Homo sapiens: one gene and its partners. The protein of the gene in region 1 interacts with the protein of each later gene in a pairwise test. Each region holds a gene or a part of one and is shown in the gene's direction. Other genes may lie near its edges.

Evidence for each region. The genes of interacting proteins can lie anywhere in the genome.
Region 2: the proteins of GCM2 (region 1) and ZMIZ2 interact in binary tests that used the Homo sapiens proteins (3 or more experiments, as listed by UniProt).
Region 3: the proteins of GCM2 (region 1) and GPSM1 interact in binary tests that used the Homo sapiens proteins (3 or more experiments, as listed by UniProt).

Annotation. Positions count from the first base shown.
Region 1 is NC_000006.12:10,879,042-10,886,360, reverse strand, and holds the start of GCM2 (chorion-specific transcription factor GCMb), read left to right. Parts: upstream 1-4,319; 5' UTR 4,320-4,567; coding exon 4,568-4,657; intron 4,658-7,319. UniProt on the Homo sapiens protein: Transcription factor that binds specific sequences on gene promoters and activate their transcription. Through the regulation of gene transcription, may play a role in parathyroid gland development.
Region 2 is NC_000007.14:44,758,717-44,765,960, forward strand, and holds part of ZMIZ2 (zinc finger MIZ domain-containing protein 2), read left to right. Parts: intron 1-564; coding exon 565-744; intron 745-847; exon of another isoform or gene 848-859; coding exon of another isoform or gene 860-1,030; intron 1,031-1,434; coding exon 1,435-1,512; intron 1,513-1,708; coding exon 1,709-1,877; intron 1,878-2,705; coding exon of another isoform or gene 2,706-2,732; coding exon 2,733-2,877; intron 2,878-2,978; coding exon 2,979-3,189; intron 3,190-4,164; coding exon 4,165-4,270; intron 4,271-4,539; coding exon 4,540-4,697; intron 4,698-5,702; coding exon 5,703-5,770; intron 5,771-6,224; coding exon 6,225-6,293; intron 6,294-6,618; coding exon 6,619-6,863; intron 6,864-7,244. UniProt on the Homo sapiens protein: Increases ligand-dependent transcriptional activity of AR and other nuclear hormone receptors.
Region 3 is NC_000009.12:136,323,469-136,330,652, forward strand, and holds the start of GPSM1 (G-protein-signaling modulator 1), read left to right. Parts: upstream 1-4,070; 5' UTR 4,071-4,227; coding exon 4,228-4,295; intron 4,296-7,184. UniProt on the Homo sapiens protein: Guanine nucleotide dissociation inhibitor (GDI) which functions as a receptor-independent activator of heterotrimeric G-protein signaling.

The DNA of each region.
Region 1 (7,319 bases):
TGGTAACCAGACTTGTACCCGATATTATTAATACATTCCTGATTTCACACACACACAAAGTGTGTTTGGTGGTTGTTTTTTAAGTACCGTGGTGGGGAGGAAGGGGAATTTTTTTTTTTAATCAAAGCAAATAGTTTTGTTTTTGTTTTTGTTTTTTTGTTTCTTTGTTTGCCTATTTCCTTTAACCTGACAAGTATGCGTACCAATGGCTAGGCTGATTCGGATAGGTGGCCAGTTGTGTGAACACGGTGGCAAAATTAAATTGGACTAGAGTTTTCCACAAAAAACAAAAAAAAGACCCCTCCAATCCAAACATCCTTTGTGTAAAAATCAACTTGTATTATAACTAGACCTGTGAGTATTTCAAGTCATAATATGTACGGAAGATATTTGTCTACACCAAAGCAAAACATAACAAAACCAGAACCCCTGTTAGCCCAGGACTTGCACACATTTCTAGTCCGTTCAAAACAATGTTTATGTCAAAGCCTGTCATATCAATTTCCTGGAAAGTATAATGTAAACATTCTTACATTAATTTACCTATTTTAATCTAAACCAAGGAAATTCAAACGCAAGTTTTTTTCCTTTTCAATGAATGGACTTTTGTAATATTAAACTAGTAATCAAGACAGGAACAGCTGTGAGTATAAGCTATTGTGAGTCAATACAAATATAATACCAGGGCAAGAAAGAAACAATGAATAATAAGAAGCAATAAACAAAATACTACAGTTTAAATGAATTTTAAGAGAATATTTAAAAATTAGAGTTTTCATAATATTAGATAGAAAACTTAATCATCTATTATTTTCAGGCTTTGGGGGAAAACATGTCCTTCCAAAGTCTATGGTGCAATGCATTCAAATCTTTAAGAGAAATTAAAAATAACAGAATAGGCAAAATACCTTTTATCTGGTTTTTTTTTTACTTTGATTAGCTTCTTTTACTAACATGTTTTGTCTTAATATAATTTATGGCAACTTGAAATGCATACTCTAATTCTTCTCAAACTAAATATAGTAGAGGCTCTATGACATTTCTTTGGATACCAGAATCCCTTTAGAAATTAATTGATTTGCCTTTTACATAAAAAAGTTTTATTTATTTATGTTTTTGACGGGTCAGGTCTCTCTAGGAACATTCCAAAAGCACAGAGACAAGAACTATTCTAGCACTGCAATAAGACCAAAAATTAATTTCTATGCATTTTCAGAGGTAACTTTAAATCACCATTTTAAAGTTATTTTTAGAACATTTGAAAGGATAAGTTATCTTAGACTACAACATTTAATGAAATACTATAATTAAAATGGATAATCAATAAATTTTCATTCAATTTTGGAAGACAAAACAACACGAAAAGCAACTGAATCAACAGGAGTTTCGGGGACCTTTGGCAGACAGTTAATAAGATGAAAAATCTGTGAATGAAACTCGTGGGTGAAGAGTAGACAGATCTCTTCGTTCCCAGCTAGACCTCAGTGGCGACCATTTGAGAGTGATTTTAATCAGAAACCTTGACTGACAGGACCTTTTAGGAGGGGAGAACTTCGGGAGAAAGGAGGCTGGGAATGAACAAATCACTTTCTTCTGCTAGGACCCTTCGGCTTTGACTGGGAGGAGGACCCCAGCTAGAAGATAAAGGAGGAAAAAATCGCGAGGAACTGCTCGAAGTTGGCCTTTCTTCCCAACAGAGTTCGCTGGTCCGCTGCCACTGGCAGGCTTCTCTGACCGACTGGGATACTTTTTCTTTCTTCTTTCCTTTTCTTTTTTTTTTCTTTTTCTTTTCTTTCTCCTTCCTTGCTTCCTTCCTCTCTCTCTCTCTCTTTCTTTCTGTCTTTCTTTCCTTCCTTTTTTTTTTTTTTTTTTTTGAGACAGGGTCTCGTTCTGTCGCCCAGGCTCGGCGCTATCTCAGGTTACTGCAACCACTGCCTCCTGGATTCAAGCGATCCTCCCGCCTCAGCCTCCCAAGTAGCTGGGACTACAGGCACACGCCACCATGCCCGGCTTTTTTTTTTTTTTTTTTTTTCGAAGAGACAGGGTTTCGCCATGTTGCCCAGTCTGGTCTTGCACTCCTGGGCTCAAGCGATCCTCCCGTCTCGGCCTCCCAAAGTGCTGGGATTACAGGCATGAGCCACTGCGCCCAATCGCGGGATGGACTTTTCTAAGCAAGCCTCACTGTGCCTTTGGCGCGGGAAGTAAAAGGACAGGGAGCGTGGACCACCCTTAGCTTCCTGATGTGGTTTCGCTCTTCCTTTATCCGCCTTTTGCCAACCGAAGGCACTAATCCTGCAAGAGGCGTTGGCATGGGCGCCCTCCTGGCCGAGTCCCGGGCAGCACCCGTCCGTGCGCTCAGCACGGGCTTTGCGGTGCCAAGGCCTAGGGTGCGTCGCTTCCCGGGTCTGGAGGGTCATGGATTCGGTTCATCCTCCTCTATCAAGGGATCTGCCGTGAGGAGTTGGCTCCTCTTCTCTGGCTGGGGCTGGGAATGGAAGCGTGCAGCTGCAAAACAAGGACGCGGGCAATAAATTCCAGAAGCCCTTTCCCCTGGCCGCCAAGAATCCGGCCTTGGGGTAGTCAAAGAGTGACTTTAGTCACTTCAATCGGTTTTGTTTTGTTTTGTTTGTTTTTTGTTTTTTGTTTTTTTTATATATATATATACTGAGGGTCTCCATGTGCCGGAGTAGCCCTGGGCGAGTCGGCTGCTCAGATGATGAAGGTTTCGTCCCAGCCCCGGAGAACCCACATTGTCCTGCGCACCTCCGCACCACCGCGATTCTCTAGTCCTCCAAAGCCTCCCAAGACTGTAATGGAGTAAATTCAATTTCGTCGTGATATTTCCAAGACTATATCAGTGAAGTTTTTTTTTAAGAGTTGTGGGCCGGGCGCGGTGGCTCACGCCTTTAATCCCAGCACTTTGAGAGGCCGAGACAGGAGGATCACGAAGTCAAAAAATCGAGACCATCCTGGCCAACTTGGTAAAACCCTGTCTCTACTAACAATACAAAATTAGCTGGTCGCGATGGCGCGCCTGTAGTTCCAGCTACTCGGGAGGCTGAGGCAGGAGAATCGTTTGAACCTGGGAGGCGGAGGTTGCAGTGAGCCGAGATTGCGCCACTGCACTCCAGCCGGGAAGACAGAGTGAGACTCCGTCTCAAAAAAAAAAAAAAAAAAAAAGATTTGTGTTCGGGTGGGTGGCAACTGAGAGCTCGCCGAACCACAACCTCTTATTTAACAGATAAACAGATAAGGAAGCTGAGACCCAGAGGGAGCCAAAGCAGTGGAGAAAGCGAGTTCTTTGGGACTTTTCCCCTCTCCCCTTTCCCTCCTTCCCCAGGCTCCCACCTACCCCAGGCTCCCACCTACCCCGGGCTCATTTCCGCCCCCCACCTCCTCCAGGTTCACTTTGTAGGACTCCGTTCCTGCAGGGCCAGGTCCCTCCGAAGTCCCCGGGAGCGTGAAGGCGCCTGGGCTCGCGAGCATACGCGGAGGCTTGGCGCACCCTGGCACGTCCCAAACAGCAGAGCCAAGACTGCGAGACACTCACAATAGTTAGGGGAAGAGCCGGCAGTGGAGGCCCAAAATGGGCTGACCCCTAACTAGGAGGCGTGGGCGCGGTTATTCAGGCTAGGGCGCACGCGGACGGCAGAGGGGCCCACGCACGGTTCCCATGCTCTCCTGGAATTGAGTGTTGGCTCTCAGGGGACTTTGCTGGAAAGCCTCCATCTAAGCCCCTTTCCGAAATCAGGGAAGCTGGACGCGTTTAGAAAAAAGAAAAAAAATAGGCCGGTCGCGGTTGCTCACGCCTGTAATCCCAGCACTTTGGGAGGCCCAGGCGGGCAGATCGTCAGGAGTTCAAGACCAGCTTGGTCAGGGTTTCGCATGGCTAAAACCTGTCTCTACTAAAAATACAAAAATTAGCCAGGGTGGTGGCACGGACCTGTATTCCCAGCTACTCGGGAGGTTGAGGCAGGAGAATCGCTTGAACCTGGGAGGCAGAGGTTGCAGTTAGCTGAGATGGCGCCACTGCACTCTAGCCTGGGCAACAGAGTGAGACAAAAAAGAAGAAAAGAAAAGAAGAAAATAATAAGGTTTTAAACTTAAAGGATACATTCCTACTTACCCTCTCCACCCCCACCCTCTGGCTGCAGTTTCCATTTGCTTCCAGGGCTGAGTTTAACCTCCACCTCCGTTCCTGGGACTGTGGTGGAGGGGGCGACCGGCCCCTGGAGCGTGGGCGCTAGCGAGGTAGGCGAGACAGGGCGGAGCCCCCCGGAGGTATATCTTTATAAAGGAGGGGGCAGCTGCCAGAGGTCGATGCTGCCGTTCGGGTGGAGAACGTTCAGCACCGCGGCCAAGGACAAGGCCCCGCCCGGGTCCATAACCATTGTCCCCAGCTTCCAGATATCTAAACAGCCTCTCTCTCTTTCTCTCTCTCTGCACCTCCCCTTCACACACCCCACTTTCTTCTTTAAAGAGAAGAAAAAAAACCCACCTGGCGCACCTGTCCTTTTTTCTTCTATTTTTCAGAACCCTGGGCGGAAAGCGCGAGCGAGTTGGGCAGATGCCGGCGGCCGCGGTGCAGGAAGCGGTCGGCGTGTGCTCCTACGGGATGCAGCTCAGCTGGGACATCAACGATCCGCAGATGCCTCAGGTAAGTGAACCGGGTGTGTGCGGGCACGCGGGGCGCTGTCCATCCGAAGGAGGGAGAATGGCATTCGAGTTCTTGAAGAGTCTGCGGACGGACCATACACACACACACACACACACACACACACACACACACACACACACACACACACATACCCGCAAAATTTCTGGGTTTCTGAGGCCCTCTCAAGTGTAGAAAGAAAACTGGACTCTACAAAAGGCTGAGTTGGGTTTAGAAATGTGTCTTCTTGGCCGGGCGCTGTGGTTCATACCTGTAATCCCAGCACTTTGGGAGGCTGAGGCGGGTGGATCATCTGAGGTCGGGAGTTCAAGACCAGCCTGACCAACATGGAGAAACCCCGTCTCTACCAAAAATACAAAATCAGCCCAGCGTGGTGGCGCATGCCTAAAGTCGCAGCTACTCGGGAGGCTGAGGCAGGAGAATCGCTTGAACCCGAGAGGCAGAGGTTGCGGTGAGCCAAGATCACGCCATTGAACTCCAGCCTGGGCAACAAGAGCAAAACTCCATCTCAAAAAAAGAAGAAGAAGAAGAAGAAGAAATGTGTCTTCTCCCAGCAATTTCCTTGTGCTTGCCTGAAATCACAAGCAAAGCAGCAGGAAATGTTGGTCAGGCTCCACATTCCCAGTCTTGGGGAGAGCGGGACGCCTGTCCTTTCACTTCCCTTTAACCAAGGTAGAAATTAGGTGCCTCTCTCCTTATTCATTTACTTTAAATCCATGAGGAAGCTAAGGAGAAAATCTAAGCAGATGTAAATACCACTGCTTCTCATGCAGCAAAACTGAGGTACAACTGTAAAGTGAATCTAATGACCTAAATTTAAAACAAGTAGCCCGACTTGAGCAATTTGCTCAGACCTCCCTAACTGCTCAGAGGAAGGAGGCCCCATAGTCATGCCAACAAGGCCACCTGTACCCAAAACTTACTTCTTCTCTAATGACAAGCAAATCATCATTCTTTTAGGGTGAATTTGTTGTATTTTGCTTTATTTCAATAAAGCAAAAATGGTTTGGAGCCAAGTCCAAAGAATGACTGGGGTGGATGAAGTGGTGAATGAAGTGGGTGGTTTGAAGCCAGTTCCAGAGAATGACCAATTATCATTAGTCACACTGGTTAGGGCCAAAATTGAGTGATGTTGAAGTCCTGGCTGTAGGGGGTGGGGGGTGTAGAATGAGAGTTGCTTCCCTGCCATTTGCAGATGTGGGCTTCCAGCAATGTTGTGGCACAGGGATAAAAGAGATGGGTCATTTTGTCCGCAACTAAAATGTGTCTGATAGGTGTTCAGATGAATAACAATTCATTGCAACATTGTGTCGCCTCTCATAGAGGTCAGCACTTTTTTGGATCCATATATTTGTAGTAGGTTAGGTGTGTTTTACTCCTTTGTTTTTGTTTGTTTGTTGGGGTTTTTTGTTGTTGTTTGTTTGTTTTTTGAGGCGGGGTTTAGCTCTTGTTGCCTAGGCTGGGGTGCAATCACACGATCTCAGCTCACTGCAACCTCCATCCCCCAGGCTCCAGCGATTCTCTTGCCTCAGCTTCCCGAGTAGCTGGGACTACAAGCATGCGCCACCACGCCCAGCTAATTTTGTATTTTTAGTAGAGATTGGGTTTCTCCATGTTGGTCAGGCTGGTCTCGAACTCCTGACCTCAGCTGATCCACCCGCCTTAGCCTCGCAAAGTGCTGGGATTACAGGCGTGAGCCACCGTGCCTGGCCCACTCCTTTGTTTTAAAGTCTGCCTACTTTAGAGTCACATGGTACCATTTTCATGAAAGTGGACCACAGTACAGCAAGTGCATCTCATTCTGTTTCTGTCCATGTACATCTTCACAGGAAACAATCATATCTTGCATTTTAGAAAAGTCACATCCAAGTAATGTAATTATGGTTCATCTCTCAAGCATTTGCTAGACTTCCCATGTCAATATGAACTTTTTTTTAGGAGACTGGTTGTTAAGCAGGAAGCATGTGTGTAATATCTCAAACGGGCCAGGCACACTGGGACATGGAGAAGTGAAGAAACTTAGCATCGCCCTGCTCTGGGTAACCGAGTGAGCAAGTTAAACTACCTGTCTGACCTTGAGAGAGTCCTTGAATTTGCCTTAGTCTCAGGCTACTTACTCACTTGTCATCAAGTGGTAGAGTGAGATAACCATCTCAAACTCTCCTCCAGGTCTACGATCAGGTTCAGTGTCTATGTGTGTGTATGTACACACACACACAACATGCCAACACTTGAGAGCAAGTGAAACCCAATCCTTGACATCCTCTATTCTTGTACTGATTTTAAAAATACAATCTCTGTGGCTTCATTGCCAGGGTCACTACCTCAGTAGCTCGTGTGAGGCATGGGGGCCTAGTCTACATCCTTAAGGGAGAGCTAAAGAAATGCTGTTTTCTGGAAAATTGTCAATTTGTTACTAAGATCCTTAAGTTAAAATATTCACTTTTAAAACAAAGATATTAGCATTTAATATAAGCTTGGAGTTGATAGCACATCATTATATATTTCATTTGTGACTTACCTTACATTGATGTATCATGTCAATTGTAATATTTCAGAGAAAAGATAAATAATACCTATGGTAGTAATAATGATTTCAACAATATCTTTGTAATTTTGGAAACAAAATCACCCATTAACCTTA
Region 2 (7,244 bases), on another chromosome or scaffold:
CCTGGCCAGCATGGTGAAACCCCATCTCTAATAAAAATACAAAAAGCATTAGCCGGGTGTGGTGGCGGGCGCCTGCAGTCCCAGCTACTTGGGAGGCTGAGGCAGGAGAATTGCTTGAACCCAGCAGGCAGAGGTTGCAGTGAGCTGAGATCATGCCACTGCACTCCAGCCTGGGTGACAGAATAAGACTCCATCTCAAAAAAAAAAAAAAAAAAATTAGCCGGGCGTGGTGGTGTGCACCTGTAATTCCAGCTACTTGGGAGGCTGAGGCAGGAGAATTGCTTGAACCCAGGAGGTGGAGGCTGCAGTGAGCCAAGATTGCACCACTGCACTTCAGCCTGGGCAACAGAGTGAGACTGTCTCAAATTAAAAAAAAAAAAAAAAAAAAAAACAGGCTTCTGCATGTGAGAACTGCCTGTGCCTGACAGTGTCACAGCAGGATCTTCAAGGGAACCAGGAAATCTCCATTCCCCGAACCCTGCCACACATGAGACTCTACTTCCTTCTGGAACCAGCTCCCCTGATGCCTTTTTTCTCCCCTCGGGCATTTTGCCTCTTTTTCAGGTGTATCCAGGGCAGCAGTATCTGCAAGGAGGCCAGTATGCACCCAGCACCGCCCAGTTTGCGCCCAGCCCTGGGCAGCCCCCTGCCCCCTCCCCTTCCTACCCTGGGCACAGGCTGCCCCTGCAGCAGGGCATGACCCAGTCCCTGTCCGTGCCTGGCCCCACGGGACTGCATTATAAGGTAGGGCAGGCTCCTCCAGGCCCTGTGCCGGGCTCCGTGCTGAGTGCTGTGGGACAGGGGACCTTGGGGCAGTCCTGTCCTCGAGAGCGACAGGGTGGCTAAAGGGGCCAGCAGGATGTGTAGGTCCATGTGTGCTCATGGACCACAGCTCTACAGGAGATGGGGGGTGGGGGGTGGGGGCATTCTGACCAGTGCAGGAGCAGCTCCTGGGGTTTGGGATCCAGTTCCGAAAGGACCCTCTACAAGATTCATATATCTCAGGGGTATCCTGTGCAGGGAGCAGCAGGTGGGTACCCAAAACATTTGAATGTTCTTTATGGAAAAGTGTCATTCCTTCTACTTGCTGCAGAGAAATCCATTGAGAGGACAGGCCCTCGCTGCTGGCCATGTACCCTTTCTGGGTGCATGGGCAGAGCCTACCTCCCTGGGAGCCTGGGTGCGCCGGGTGGTGCAGCTTGGGGGAGGAGAGGAGGAGGGCTTAGCGTGCTTTTGTCTTTTCAGCCCCTCCAACCTGTTTGATCATTTTCCTCTGTGGCTATGATTGCTTTAAGTAGTGTTACTTGTAGATTATTTGGAAAATACAAGAGAGTGTAAAGAAGACCGTGTATGGTGGGCTTCTAGGGTCAGGTCCAGGGGGCCCGGCAGGGGTCAGGTTGGAGCCCCAGGTGCATGCAGTTTTCTCTCCCGCAGCCCACAGAGCAGTTCAACGGGCAGGGCGCCAGCTTCAACGGGGGCAGCGTCAGCTACAGCCAACCTGGCCTGAGTGGGGTAGGGGGCCTGGCCGGGAGGATGGGCCGGGAGGCTCACAGGGTGGGCATATGGAGAGAGGGCGACCGGGCAGGCACCCCTGGGGCCGCCTCCTGTCCACCTCTGTTATCATGGTTCCCAGTGGGTGCGCCGTGAACAGACTCCACTCCCATCCACCCTGGCAATCTGCCTTGACTGTTTGTGCTCAACCCTACAGCCTACCCGTTCCATCCCGGGCTATCCCAGTTCCCCACTGCCAGGGAACCCCACGCCACCCATGACCCCAAGCAGCAGCGTCCCTTACATGTCACCAAACCAAGAGGTCAAGTCTCCCTTCTTGCCTGATCTCAAGCCCAACCTCAACTCCTTGCACTCATCGCCCTCTGGTAAGTCTGTCCACTCTTGGGACAGCGGGGTGACAAGGCCAGGGTGGGCATGGGGGAATCACAGGACTCCAGAGAGTCCTGTAGGAGCTTGGGGGACAGGGGATGGCTGCCATATCCCTAAGAAAAGGGCTGGGTGTGGTGGCTCACACTTGTAATCCCAGCACCTTCGGAGGCTGAGCACAAGAGTTCAAGGTTACCGTGAGTGTGATCTTGCCACTGCACTTCAACCTGGGTCCCAAAGCAAGACCCTGTCTTAAAAAAAAAAAAAAAAAAGGCCAAGGATTCCATCTTCTTAAAGACAAGTCGCTTAGTGCCAAGCCTTCACCTTTTTGTTCTGTTTGTGGCTTTCTTTGCAAAGGAGGCTGTGGCTCTTCTCTCCCCTGTGCACAAAATGTTGTATATAATTTCAGGGGATTTATGAACCCCGGAAGCCCATTCCAGGGAGACCACAGCAGCAGAAGTTGGGATCGTAGAACTCTAAACAGAGCTATAGGGCAATTGCAGGAGGCTCTCACACACCTTGGCCTCCCAGTCTCTCTGAAAGCACTGGAAACACCTTTTGTCTGGGCTGGGGACATGTTCCCCTATTATGGTTTAGGGGACACTGGGCTGGACTGCTGAGGCAGGAGGCAAGACAGAACATCACGACCGAATGCCCAGGCCTCAGGAGAGATGCTGCCCATGGCCCCAGCCCCAGGGCACCACTCAGGCCTGCCAAGCAGTGCCTGACAGGAGGGGCTCCCTTCACCAAGGTCCCTGCGGGGAAGGTGGCTGGGGAGCCGCTGCCCTCCTTGAGTGACACAAGACGCTCTGGCTGGGGCAACCCAGCTCACAGCCAGTGGCCTCTGCTCCCAGGAAGCGGGCCTTGTGACGAGTTGCGGCTGACCTTCCCTGTGCGCGATGGGGTGGTCCTGGAGCCCTTCCGCCTGCAGCACAACCTGGCTGTAAGCAACCATGTCTTCCAGCTGCGAGACTCAGTCTACAAGACCCTGATAATGAGGTGAGCTCCGCCTGGCCCCCACCTGACCCCCACGAGGCTCTGTTCCTCCTCCCACACTCTCAGGGCCCGTTTTCTGGGTGTCCACCCATCTTCCTGAGCAGGCCTGACCTGGAGCTGCAATTCAAGTGCTACCACCACGAGGACCGGCAGATGAACACCAACTGGCCAGCCTCGGTGCAGGTCAGCGTCAATGCCACGCCGCTCACCATCGAGCGTGGCGACAACAAGACCTCGCACAAGCCACTCTACCTGAAGCATGTGTGCCAGCCAGGCCGCAACACCATCCAGATCACCGTCACCGCCTGCTGCTGCGTGCGTGTCCTGCGCCGAGGGGGCGGTGCTGTGGCGTGGGGCGGGGTGTGGTGGGGCCTGGCCCAGCGGTGCCGTGGGGTGGGGCGGGGTGTGGGCGGGGCCTGGCCCAGCGGCGCAGTGGGAGCGGAGCCAGGACATGGGCGGGCCGGCCTGCAGCACCATCAGATCATGCCGCCGTCTGCTGTTTTGCTGTCCACCGCCTGCTGTAGCATGTGTGCCCCCTTGCAGGGTGGAGAGCAGGACGTGGGGGCTTTATTATTTCAGAAAAATGCGTTGCTTCTCTTTGTTACTGCCTTGTATTTCTATTTTAATCTGTCATCCTTGCCCTTTAAGAAAGCGATCCAGTAATATACCCTAGCTGTTTTCCAGTTAGAGTAAATTGACTAGATTTGATGCTCACATTAATTATGTAAGAGAAACCAGGATATGCAGAAAGCTCATGGAGCTCGGAGTCCCCGGCTGATCAAGCATTACCGGTTCTAGCAAGCATCAGGGTCACCCTTGGGCTAGAGAAGAAAGACATGGCTTATGAGTGCACTAGTCAGCCTGGGCATGAGGGCCTTGGGGACGGGTTGGCCACACACCACATTGTCTGGGATGTGGCAGATGTCAACACAGACCCAGCATCTGTGACTGTGGATGTGCGAGCAGGGGGAACGTTCAAGGGGACTTGAGGTGATTCTCTTCATGGAGAAGTGGTGACTAGGCAATGGTTAGACCGGCAGGATGCCCAGCACAGCTGTAGAGATGGATACAAGCGTGGGCAGGGCGCTGAGGCCAGGAAAGGCAGCTGGATGGGGCCAAGCCACTGAGGAGTTTTGTTGGCTGAATCCCCACCCCCAGCTCACCCTGCCCTCAGCCTTGTCCCTCCCCCACCTGGCAGCCCCTGACACACAACCCCCAGCACACCCTTTACCTGGCCAGGGTGGCCCCTGGCCCAAGTCCCCCTGATGACATCCTCCCGTTGTATTGCAGTCCCACCTCTTCGTGCTGCAGCTAGTGCACCGCCCATCCGTCCGCTCGGTGCTGCAGGGCCTCCTCAAAAAGCGCCTCCTGCCTGCTGAGCACTGCATCACCAAGAGTGAGTGGCTCCTGCCCCTCAGCTGCCAGGCAGCCATCCCCATTCTGTGTGGCCCAAGCCCAACAATCCTCCTTGTGGGCACCTCCTCGTGTCACACCAGGCCTTCTCCTTGGACAGGTGGCTCTGCAGTAGGGGCAGTGGTTAGTTCCAGGTGGCCCCTCAGAGCTGTCAGTGGGTCAGTGACTGGGTCCCTGCCTCGTTGGCATCCCCATTCACACCTCCCCATCTTGGGGACCCTTTACTCAAGTCCTTTACCTTGTTGATGTCAGTAAAGCGGAACTTCAGCAGCGGCACCATCCCTGGCACCCCTGGGCCCAACGGAGAGGACGGGGTGGAGCAGACAGCTATCAAGGTGTCCCTGAAGTGCCCCATCACCTTCCGCAGGATCCAGCTCCCTGCCCGAGGTCATGACTGTCGCCACATACAGGTAGGTGGTTACTGCAGAGTCTTGCCGGAATTTGCTGCTGCTAAAATATCTTGAGTCGATACATCAGTGTCATTCTCTGGACAGACGTGAACTCCGAGTGCCTTGGCTGTCAGGCTGACAGGACAGGCCTCCCACGCCAAGGAGGCAGGTGGGCCTGGCTCCCCCAAGACTAGGCTATTTTTTCTTCCAAATATAATTGTCATTTTACTAACTTTTTTACTGCCTGCTTCATTCATGGGTTCAAGTTTTGAAAGGCATAAGATTGCAGGGTCCAGTCTTCCTGCCCTACCCCCAAGGGTGACCATCGTTAGCATCTGTCTTTGCAGAAATACTCTGGGTATGAACAAGTAGATGCACAGCCCACTGTCTCTGTGGTTACATAGTGGTCCCTATTGCACAAACTGCTCTGTGCTGTCGTTTTTCTTCTTTTAACACCATGTTCTGAGGCTGGGCGCGGTGGCTCACACCTGTAATCCCAGCACTTTGGGAGGCTGAGGTGGGCAGATCGAGGTAAGGAGTTCGAGACCAGCCTGGCCAGCATGGTGAAACCCTGTCTCTACTAAAATTACAAAAATTAGCTGGGGCATGGTGGTGTGTGCCTGTAATCCCAGCCACTTACGAGGCTGAGGTAGGAGAATCGCTTGAACCTGGGAGGCGGAGGTTGCAATGAGCTGAGATCGAGCCACTGCATTCCAGCCTGGGTGACAGAGCGAGACTCTTGTCTCGAAACAAAACAAAAATACCATGTTCTGGAAGTGGGTCCCAGTCAGCACAGCTGCCCGATGCTTGCTTTGGCCACATGGCATTCCAGTCTCAGTGAGAGCTGTTTGGGCTGTTCCCAACCTTGATCCATTAGAATGATGTTGCAGTGAAAACCTGGTACATGCAGTATCTCAGTTATGCATGTAAATAAGTCACACATTCCTGAAAAGGGATTGCAGAGTGACCAGATTTTCCCTGTGCTACCCACAATGAGAAACTGACTTTCTTCCCATCTCTCTACAGTGCTTTGACCTGGAGTCGTACCTGCAGCTCAACTGTGAGCGGGGGACTTGGAGGTGTCCTGTGTGCAAGTGAGTCTCAGATGCAGCGTGTGATGGAGGAGGGGCTGGTGCTTTTAGAGGCTTTCATGGGTGAAACCTCCAACAGCATCATCAAAGATACGAGCCTGCTGGGAGGAGTCACTGCATGGACTGGGGTTGTGCAGCTCAGCGCAGAGAGCTCGTATAGGGTGGCCTTATGCAGGGTCATCTCATGCAGTCACCTTGTGCAGAGTCACTTCACACAGGGTCACCACATGCACAGGATCACCTCGTATTTTCACCTCACACAAGGGTCAGTCACACAGGGTCACCTTGTACTGTCACCTCACATAGGGTCAGCTCACACAGAGTTACCTTGTTCAGTTGCCTCACACAGGATTGCCTCATGCAGGGTCACAGCTGACAGGGCTGAGAAATGACAGGGCCTGTGCCCAGGACAGGGTTGTGCAAGGTCTCTGAGCTGTGTCCCTTTTTTTCCCCACAGCAAGACAGCTTTGCTGGAGGGCCTGGAGGTGGACCAGTACATGCTGGGCATCCTGATTTACATTCAGAAGTAAGCATCCTCTTCCTGTGATCCCTGCATCTGTGGCCACTGGAGGGCAGCCCCAGGACATGTCGGGGGATGTCCCTTGCCAAGTGCAGCCTTCCAGCCTTTTTCCGGCATGGAGCAGGCTGGATTCCAGGCCAGAGACAGCGTGTGTGTCCTACCTGAGTGTTGGTGCTGGGCCCAGCGTCCTGCTCGATGTGGAAGGTGCTGGGTGGAAGCAAGCATTTGAGTGGGGGAACCTGCCTGGAAACAGCCCAGGGCTGGGAGGGGCAGTGGGTGCCGGGCCAGCAGCAGGCCAGGAGGTAACCATTCCCCACCTGTCCCTGCCCAGCTCTGACTATGAGGAGATCACCATCGACCCCACGTGCAGCTGGAAGCCAGTGCCCGTGAAGCCTGACATGCACATCAAGGAGGAGCCGGATGGGCCAGCACTGAAGCGCTGCCGCACCGTGAGCCCCGCCCACGTGCTCATGCCCAGCGTGATGGAGATGATCGCCGCCCTGGGCCCCGGCGCTGCCCCCTTTGCCCCCCTGCAGCCCCCCTCAGTCCCTGCCCCCAGCGACTACCCTGGCCAGGGTAAGTACAGCAGGCTAGCCTTGAACCTCAGATGACCCTGGGCATATGGCTCCTCTCCCCAGATCAGTCTCCTCACCTGCAAGAATGTGGCTATGCAGGTCACACACCTAGGTTATCAGTGTTGCCACACAAAACATGCCGCGGGGCACCTCCAGCCCCTCCCATCTCAGGGACGTGGCGGTGAAGGCACAGTCTCAGCTATGGTCCCAGGAAACAGACAGTGGGGCCTCCACCCTTCCTTCCCCGTTTGGATTAAGGGGCTCCTGGCTGGAACACCTCACAGGACTGGCCCCATCTGGGGCCCCCCTCTGGGACCCACCTCACACGCGTGGTGCGTTTGTTTGTGGCTGCTCCCATTCCTATAACCTCCGAGACCTTCAC
Region 3 (7,184 bases), on another chromosome or scaffold:
GTGTGTGTGTGTGCGTGTGTGTGTTTCCCTGGCACTCACAGCATCACCATCTGCCAGGCTGGGTGGGGCGCAGATGAGGAAGACCAAGGAAGTTCCACACGACCTGCCTCGCCATGATGAGTGAGCGTGAGCTGCCTCCTGTGTGCCCTGCCTGCCCAGAGATCCCGGGGACATCACCTGGCTGACAAAGTCTGCAGCTGCCAGCAGTCGGCCAGGAATGCCGCATGGCCAGGTGTCTCATACTGGCGTGGGTGTCGTGCGGCCTCACGCGGCCCTTGAGCTATTTCCAGGTGTGGGTATCATCTCCCAGCGAGGTGCTCAGCCCTGGGGTGGGACAGACCGTTTCCTTCTGGCTCCCTGCAGAGCTTGTGGGCCCCTCCACCCACCCTGCAGTCCCCAAACTCCAGGGACTTGGAGGTCCCCAAGGAAAGGACATGGCAGTGGGAGATGATGTCATGAGGGGACTTGGGCAATGGGGAGGAACACATGGCCAAGCTGGGAGGAAGAATAAGTTCATTCTCAGAGCAACGAGATTATGTGAACATGGTAAACCCAAGTGTTCTTTTTAAGTGAGATTACTGGGAAACAAAGCTGAAACTGTTCCTTCTGTGTGTGTGTGTGTGTGTGTGTGTGTGTGTGTGTGTGTGTGTGTGTTTGGGTGTCCTTCACTGTCTCCCTCCCCACTCCCGGCCTGCTTCTTCCTTCCCCAGCTTGGAATCCACGGTTGAGGCTGGTCAGGAACCATCAGGACCCAGCATGGGTAATGGCAGCTGCTGGTGCCCTAGCCCCCACTGGGTCCTACAGTAGCTGCTTGTTGGGGAAGGGGCCTGAAAAGGTGGGAGCAGAAGGAAGCCAGGGTCTTGGGGCCGTGGGCTGCCACAGCCACCACAGAAACACTCCAACTTCTCCCAGCCCTAGCAAACCAGTGGAGGTGTGTGCTGGTGCTTTGTTCCTGGGGTGGCTTGGGGCCGCCTGGCTGCCTCTCCCGAGCCTGGCCCTCACCCAGGAGGCCACACCAGCCTCGAGTGCCCACCTCCGTCCAGAGCCCCAGCTCCCCACTCCTGGGGGCTGAGCCAAGAACCCTGTGGCTGTCCCACCGTCGCCTCCCAGAGGCTTGTCCGGCGCAACAGGACAAGGAAGGACTAAGGCTTAGAGTCGGCCCGATCAGGTGACGCCTGAGCTGTCACCGCTGTCACCACTTACACACAGGGTGTGTGGACAAAGTGGTGCGTGCCAGGGAGGGCTAAGTGACCGAGGGCAGGCACGTGGCAGGCTCCTGAAGGTGGAGGTGGCGCTGACAATGGCCACCAGTGAGCAGGGCCCTGTGTGTGCTGGGGCTGACTCCAACCCCTTGGCGCTGCCACGCAGGGGCTTGGGAGGGCCCCTCCCCAGGCACATGGGAGGTGGCCCCTCCCTGACCACGGAGCCATCGTGTCTGCAGAGGCCCACCCTGCGCCCTGTGCTGCTGCCTGGGGCCAGAAGAATAAGTCGATGTGAAATGGCTTTTTCTTTCCTCACCCCCCTTTGGGAGTCAGGCCCGTTAGGAATGGAAGGGGCTGTGCTCCTGGTCCCCTGGGGGAGTGAGCTTCCCGGACTCTTGGGGGGATCTGGTAAGGTGGATGGTGGGAGGCTCGAGGGTGTCCAGAGCCTGATGGGAGGGGGTGGCAGTGGAGGGTCATCCCTCCAGGGTCTCCCTTCTGGATGTGGACACCACATGTCAGGCCTGTCACCTGGCCTTGTCACACTCCATCTCTGGGTCCCCTTCATAGGTTTTCTCGACAGGAGAATCAGGTCCCTGGATAGGAGGAGACGCCCCTCTGTGCAGTGTGGTGGGGATGTACCCCCAATCCAGCCAGGACCCACTGCAGGGGCCCAGCAGGGGCAGGCACGAGTGTGAGAGCAACATGACCCCAGCAGCTCTCGCTGTGTGCCAGGCACATGGACACGCACCACACAAACCCCACCGTGTGCCAGGCACACGGACAAGCACCGCACAAACCCCACTGTGAGCCACTAGGCACATGGACAAGCACTGCACAAACCCCACTGTGTGCCAGGCACATGGACAAGCACCGCAGAAACCCCACGCCTCAGTGACCCTCCACACCTTGCGGGACGGGCAGCCCTCAGGTGACAGAACCGAGGCTCAGAGAGGGAAAGCAACTTGTGCCAGGTCACACAGCCTCATAGCCCAGCTCGGCCTAACAAAGCCAGAGCCCTCGGGGGTGCAGGTTTCCCCACAAGTTCTGATATAATGTTGGGGCTCTCCCGGCCCAGGGACACAAGCTCCCAGCTCTCTGCATCAAGGAAGGAGACCAGGAGAAGCTCCCCCAGCAATGACAGCTACGAGGCTGCAAATCTCTCCCTCCCTCCACCATTTGTGCAATGTCTTTTGTCCCCACTTCTCTTCACCAGCCTCCCACCACTAACCCAGGGGACCCACAAGGGGCTCACAGTGTTGGTGTGGACCCTCTGTGGGCCTCCTGATGGCAGCAGCGCCTGGGGAAAGAGGGCTGAGCTGAGGCCTGGCACAGGCAGGGCCCCCAGCAGCCCCTGCCCTTACAATGGGATGCTGGCTCAGGTGCCCGAAGCCCAAAGGAGGTGGCCCGGAAGGTTGGAGCTTCAATCGAAGGCCTGTTCTCTGCCCGCAGCCAGGCCCAGGGCTGTGGCAAAGGAGGGTGGTGCCCCAGCCAACACCACTGTCCCTGCCGGCCAGCAGCCACGGCCCCGGCTGGAAGGGAGCAAGGCTCTGCCTGGCTTCTGTGGTCTTTGGGGGAGGGCACGTGGGCCCAGCAGGCAGCTTGCGCTGCGCTCAGGGCACAGATGGTTCTCATTCCCGTTGCCTCCCTTACACAGGAAAAACAAACCAGCCCGGGGCCAACAGACCCCTTTTTAACCTCGTGTTTATTTTCCTTCCCATGCTTGAAAACGCTGACTGTCCTGTGGGCGGCAGCTGCTGAGGGTCTTGCCAGGACGGCACTTTCCTGACCTCAGGGCAGCTCTCCCAGGGAGGGGCTGGGGTGCACGGAGGGGCCCCGAAGGAATGCAGCCCATTTCCTGCTCCTGGACTTCTCCGAGTCATACCCGGGGTCGCAGCTGCCTTTCAAGGGCCTGGAGTCTCCTGACACCACCGGAAGGCCCAGGATGCTGTCGGGGGCAGGACAGAACCCGGGGAGGCCGGCTGTGGGCCTCGCTGGCTGCGGAGAACCCCCCAAGCCATCGGGAGCTGAGGGTGGGTGGAGGGGAAGCCACGTCACACCACATAGGCCCACAGGGCTCCAAGAATTCAGAGGAGGAGGAGGAGGCGGTAGGGGCTGGGGTCCCGGGACCCCGGGTGGGCACAGCCTACTGTGCCACCTGCATCCTCCCTAAGCCTGCACAGTGCCCAGGAGGAAGGAAGGGGCAGGCTGCATCCCCATTCCGGGGGAGCTTGGGAGGGGAATGTGGCCACCCAGGGTCTCAGAGGTGGGGGGCTTACCAACCGTCCCACAGGCCAAGCAGAGCCTGTATTTGTCATCGGTGCCCCAGGTTTCTCTAAAGCAGGCAGACAGCATCCCCACGGCCTGCGCCCCATGGCCCAAGGCAGAAGTTTGGAGAAGGGGGCAAAGCCACGTTGGGGCTGCACAGAAGAGGAGGGTAGGACCCCCGAGGCGTAGGGCGCCCACCAAGAAAGGCAAGGAGGCCTCAGCAGCCCCTCCCCACGTGGGTGAGGCTGCGGGGCTCACCAGGCGGCCTGTGGATGAAAGGAGCCCAGAGGCCAGTGTGGCTGCACTGTGACCCAGGGACCCCCGCGGGCCCTCAGAAGTCCCCAGGGGACCAGCAGCAAGGCCAGGCCCAGGCCCTCTCCCCTGCATTCCCTGGGGTGGGGTGGGCTGGGGCCCACACCCCCTCCCCCCTCCCCCCTCCCCGGGGACTGCCCGCCTCACGGCGCCCCTCCCCCCGCGTCCGCCCCGCCCCCCGCAGAGGGAGGCACGCGGCGGTGGCCGCCCGGTCCGCGCCCCCTCCCCGCGCGGGCGGCGGTGACATCACGGCCACGGCGGCGGGAGGGGCGGCGGCGCCCCGCGCACATCACTTCCTCGGCGCCTCCCCGGGGGAGGACGGGCGAACGAGGCGCGGACGGACAGGCGGACAGCAGGGCGGACAGCAGGGAGGACAGCAGGGCGGGCAGGGGGCGGACGGCCACGGCGCGGGGGGCGCTCCCGGCTCCCGCTCCCGCGTCCCCGACCCATGGCGGGCCCGGCCCCGCCCGCGGCCGACGAGCTCCCGGGCCCGGCCGCCAGGCGCCTCTACTCCAGGTAGGACGGGCCGGGGCCGGGGCCGGGGCCGGGGCTGGGACCGGACCGGGCCGGGTCGGGACGCGGGGGAGGCTGCAGTTGGGAACAAAGGCAGCTCTCGCGGGCGCGCAGCGTGGCTGAGGACGCGCCCCTCCCTCCAGGCCGAGCCCAGCCCGGCGTGTGCCCGCGTGGGCGTCCCCTGAAGCCCTCTTTCCCCCAAGCCAAGGGGAAGGGGGTGGGGGGCCGGGGGGCTGGAGGCGGGGTGGGCAGCTTCTCCAGCCTCACTCCCCTGGCACCTGGCAGGGGCACCGTGGGGTGCTTCCCTCCCAAGCCTGGCCCTGCCATGCCCGGGGCACTCAGGGGCATCATGGCCAAAGAGACCTGGCTGCTCTGGATGGGGCTCTGCCCCTCACCAGCCCTCCACGAGCCCAGTGGGATCCAGCTGGGTTGGAAGGGAGCCAGCCAGGTGGGTGTGTACCTGCCTGAAAAGGCATCTACTCTCCGGGCACATTCCTGGGTGATCCCAGTGACTGGGCTCTGTGCCCCACGCCTTTGGGGATGACAGGGTGGCCCTGCCCCAGGTGGCATGCCTGCCTGGTGACTCCCAATGTCCCCCCAGGGGCTGCCCTGGGCCCAGCCGGGCAGGTGCCTGGAGCCCCAAGCAAGGCTGGGTGGTACCAGGCCTCAGGCAGAGCCACACGAGCGTGAGGTCCAGGCAGGGGCTTGCGAATGGGTGGCAGCCGTCAGAGGCAGGCCTGGCTCCCCAGAGCGAGGGACACTATTGTCCTCTGGACATCCCTAAAACCTGGTGACCTCCCTGATAGGGGTCCCAGCAGCTGATCCCGGGGGGCGCCTAGCCTGGCCCCCAAGGATTCTCTGGCCCCAGCCAAGCAGCAAGCCTCTGCCTGGGGCACCCGAAATGAGGTACTGGTGGCGGCACGGCGGACAGAGGCCTTGCTGCCTCCGGTCTGCTCTCTGCTTTGGTCCCAGACACAGCCCCATTGTGCCGTCCTGGATGGAGCGCTGAGCCCCTAGCCTGGCTCCTGGGCCCCACGCAGGGGAGGGGCGTGAGGGTGATTTTGCTGGCAGCTGCTGCCAGGGGCCTGCCCTAAAGGATTTTCAAGGGTTTCCTCCGCTGATCTGATCGGCTGTGCAGGGCCGCATGTGCTCCAGGGCGGCCGTGCTGTGAGGGGGATGGATAGCAGCCCTGGCTGGAGTGAGTTTGAGTGTGAGTGTGTGGAGCTGTGAGAGAGTGTGTGTGTGGAGCTGTGAGAGACGGGTGTCCAAGACCTTAGCCTTGGGTGAGGCCTGCACAGCTGACCATAGAGTTGGGCATTCTCCAGGCTACAGCTAGAAGCCTGGGGTCCCCTGGGGACACGCCAGGCAGGAGCCAGCCCCTGGCAGGGGCAGTGCTCAGGGGGACCACTCAGAGAGACCCCAGACCCAGCCTTGCATCCCCCTAAGCAGGGAGTCCAGTTGAGCTCCAGGGTGGAGTCAGGCCCAGACTTGGGGGAAGCGCGCCAAGCCCTCCAGCAGGGCCTGTGACGAGGTCCCCCCGGGAGTCTGCACCCCACCGTGTAGCCACAGCCCGGTTTGGGCAGGCGGTTCCTGGTCGGAGCTGGCTTCAGAGCATGGATGCCTAGACGTGTTCTGGGCCAGTGGAAGCTGCGGGCCAGACGGGAGGGCCCTTTGCTGTCATGCTGGGGCTGGAGAGCAAGACACGGAAAAGTCTCCTGTCTCCTGAAACCCGAGTGCTGGGGGCGGCCCACCTGCTGGCGTGGGCGGTGGGCATGTGGATGCCCTGGAGGTGGGCGGAATCCGTGTGGGCACTCCTCACGTGGCTGTACTGGGGTCCCTCAATGTGGATGGGGCTCCAGGTTGGCCCAAGGTCTCCTCTGCCCCGTCTACTGCCTTCCCACACTGACATTCCTTCCTGGAGAGAGGAGTTTCAGCTTTTAAAATGGGGAACTGTGCCTGGAAAACACACTGACAGCGAGGCCCATGAATGTGCCCATGAGCCCACTGGGTACCCTGAGGGGCCCTGGGTGCTGGGTCGGTGGGGACGGGCCCCTGGGTTCTGGGTCGGTGGGGACGGGGCCCTGGGTGCTGGGTCGGTGGGGACGGGCCCCTGGGTGCTGGGTCGGTGGGGACGGGGCCCTGGGTGCTGGGTCGGTGGGGACGGGCCCCTGGGTGCTGGGTCGGTGGGGACGGGCCCTTGGGTTCTGGGTCAGTGGGGATGGGCCCTGGGTGCTGGGTCGGTGGGGACAGGGCCCTGGGTGCTACAGTTAATGCTCAGAATTCTGGCCCACTTGCCAGGGGCTCCCTGGCCCAGAGCAGGGCTTTGGGGTGAAGAGGCCTGGCGGGGACAGGCCAGTGGCTGAGAAGGCCCCGGAAAGTGGGGAAACCCTGGGTGGTCGTCTCCTGGCCTCCCACCTGCTTTAAGGCCAGCTGAGTGCTCCCCGGGGCTGGGGCCGGGAAGGGGCAGCAGAGCCACCCACCTTGGGGTGACCCTGTTAGAGATGCCCTCCAAGCAGCAGTCACCAGCTCCCAGACAGGACGTCCTCAGGTGTGGACTGGGCCCCCCGCAACCTCTCTGGCCACATGGCCATGCTACCCCCTACCTTCACTCCATCCTTCCTCCCTCCCCTGTCCCCGTCCTGGGCACCATCCCTGGTGGGTCGCTGGGCAGCGACGGGCCCTAGGAATTCCTGGCAAGCCTGACCCCAGGTGCTTCCTACAGCTGGGTGACCTTCAGTCCCCTCTCCAGTGATTCCAGCTCCCGCTGTGCTCCCAGCCCGGTCCTGCGCCTCACTCTCTCCCCTCCCCTGGCCACTGAAGGGGAGTCGGTGTGGTTTTCCCTGGGGGTGTCTGGCTGGGGGATGGGGCAGATAGAGCCAGCTGTGAGCAGAG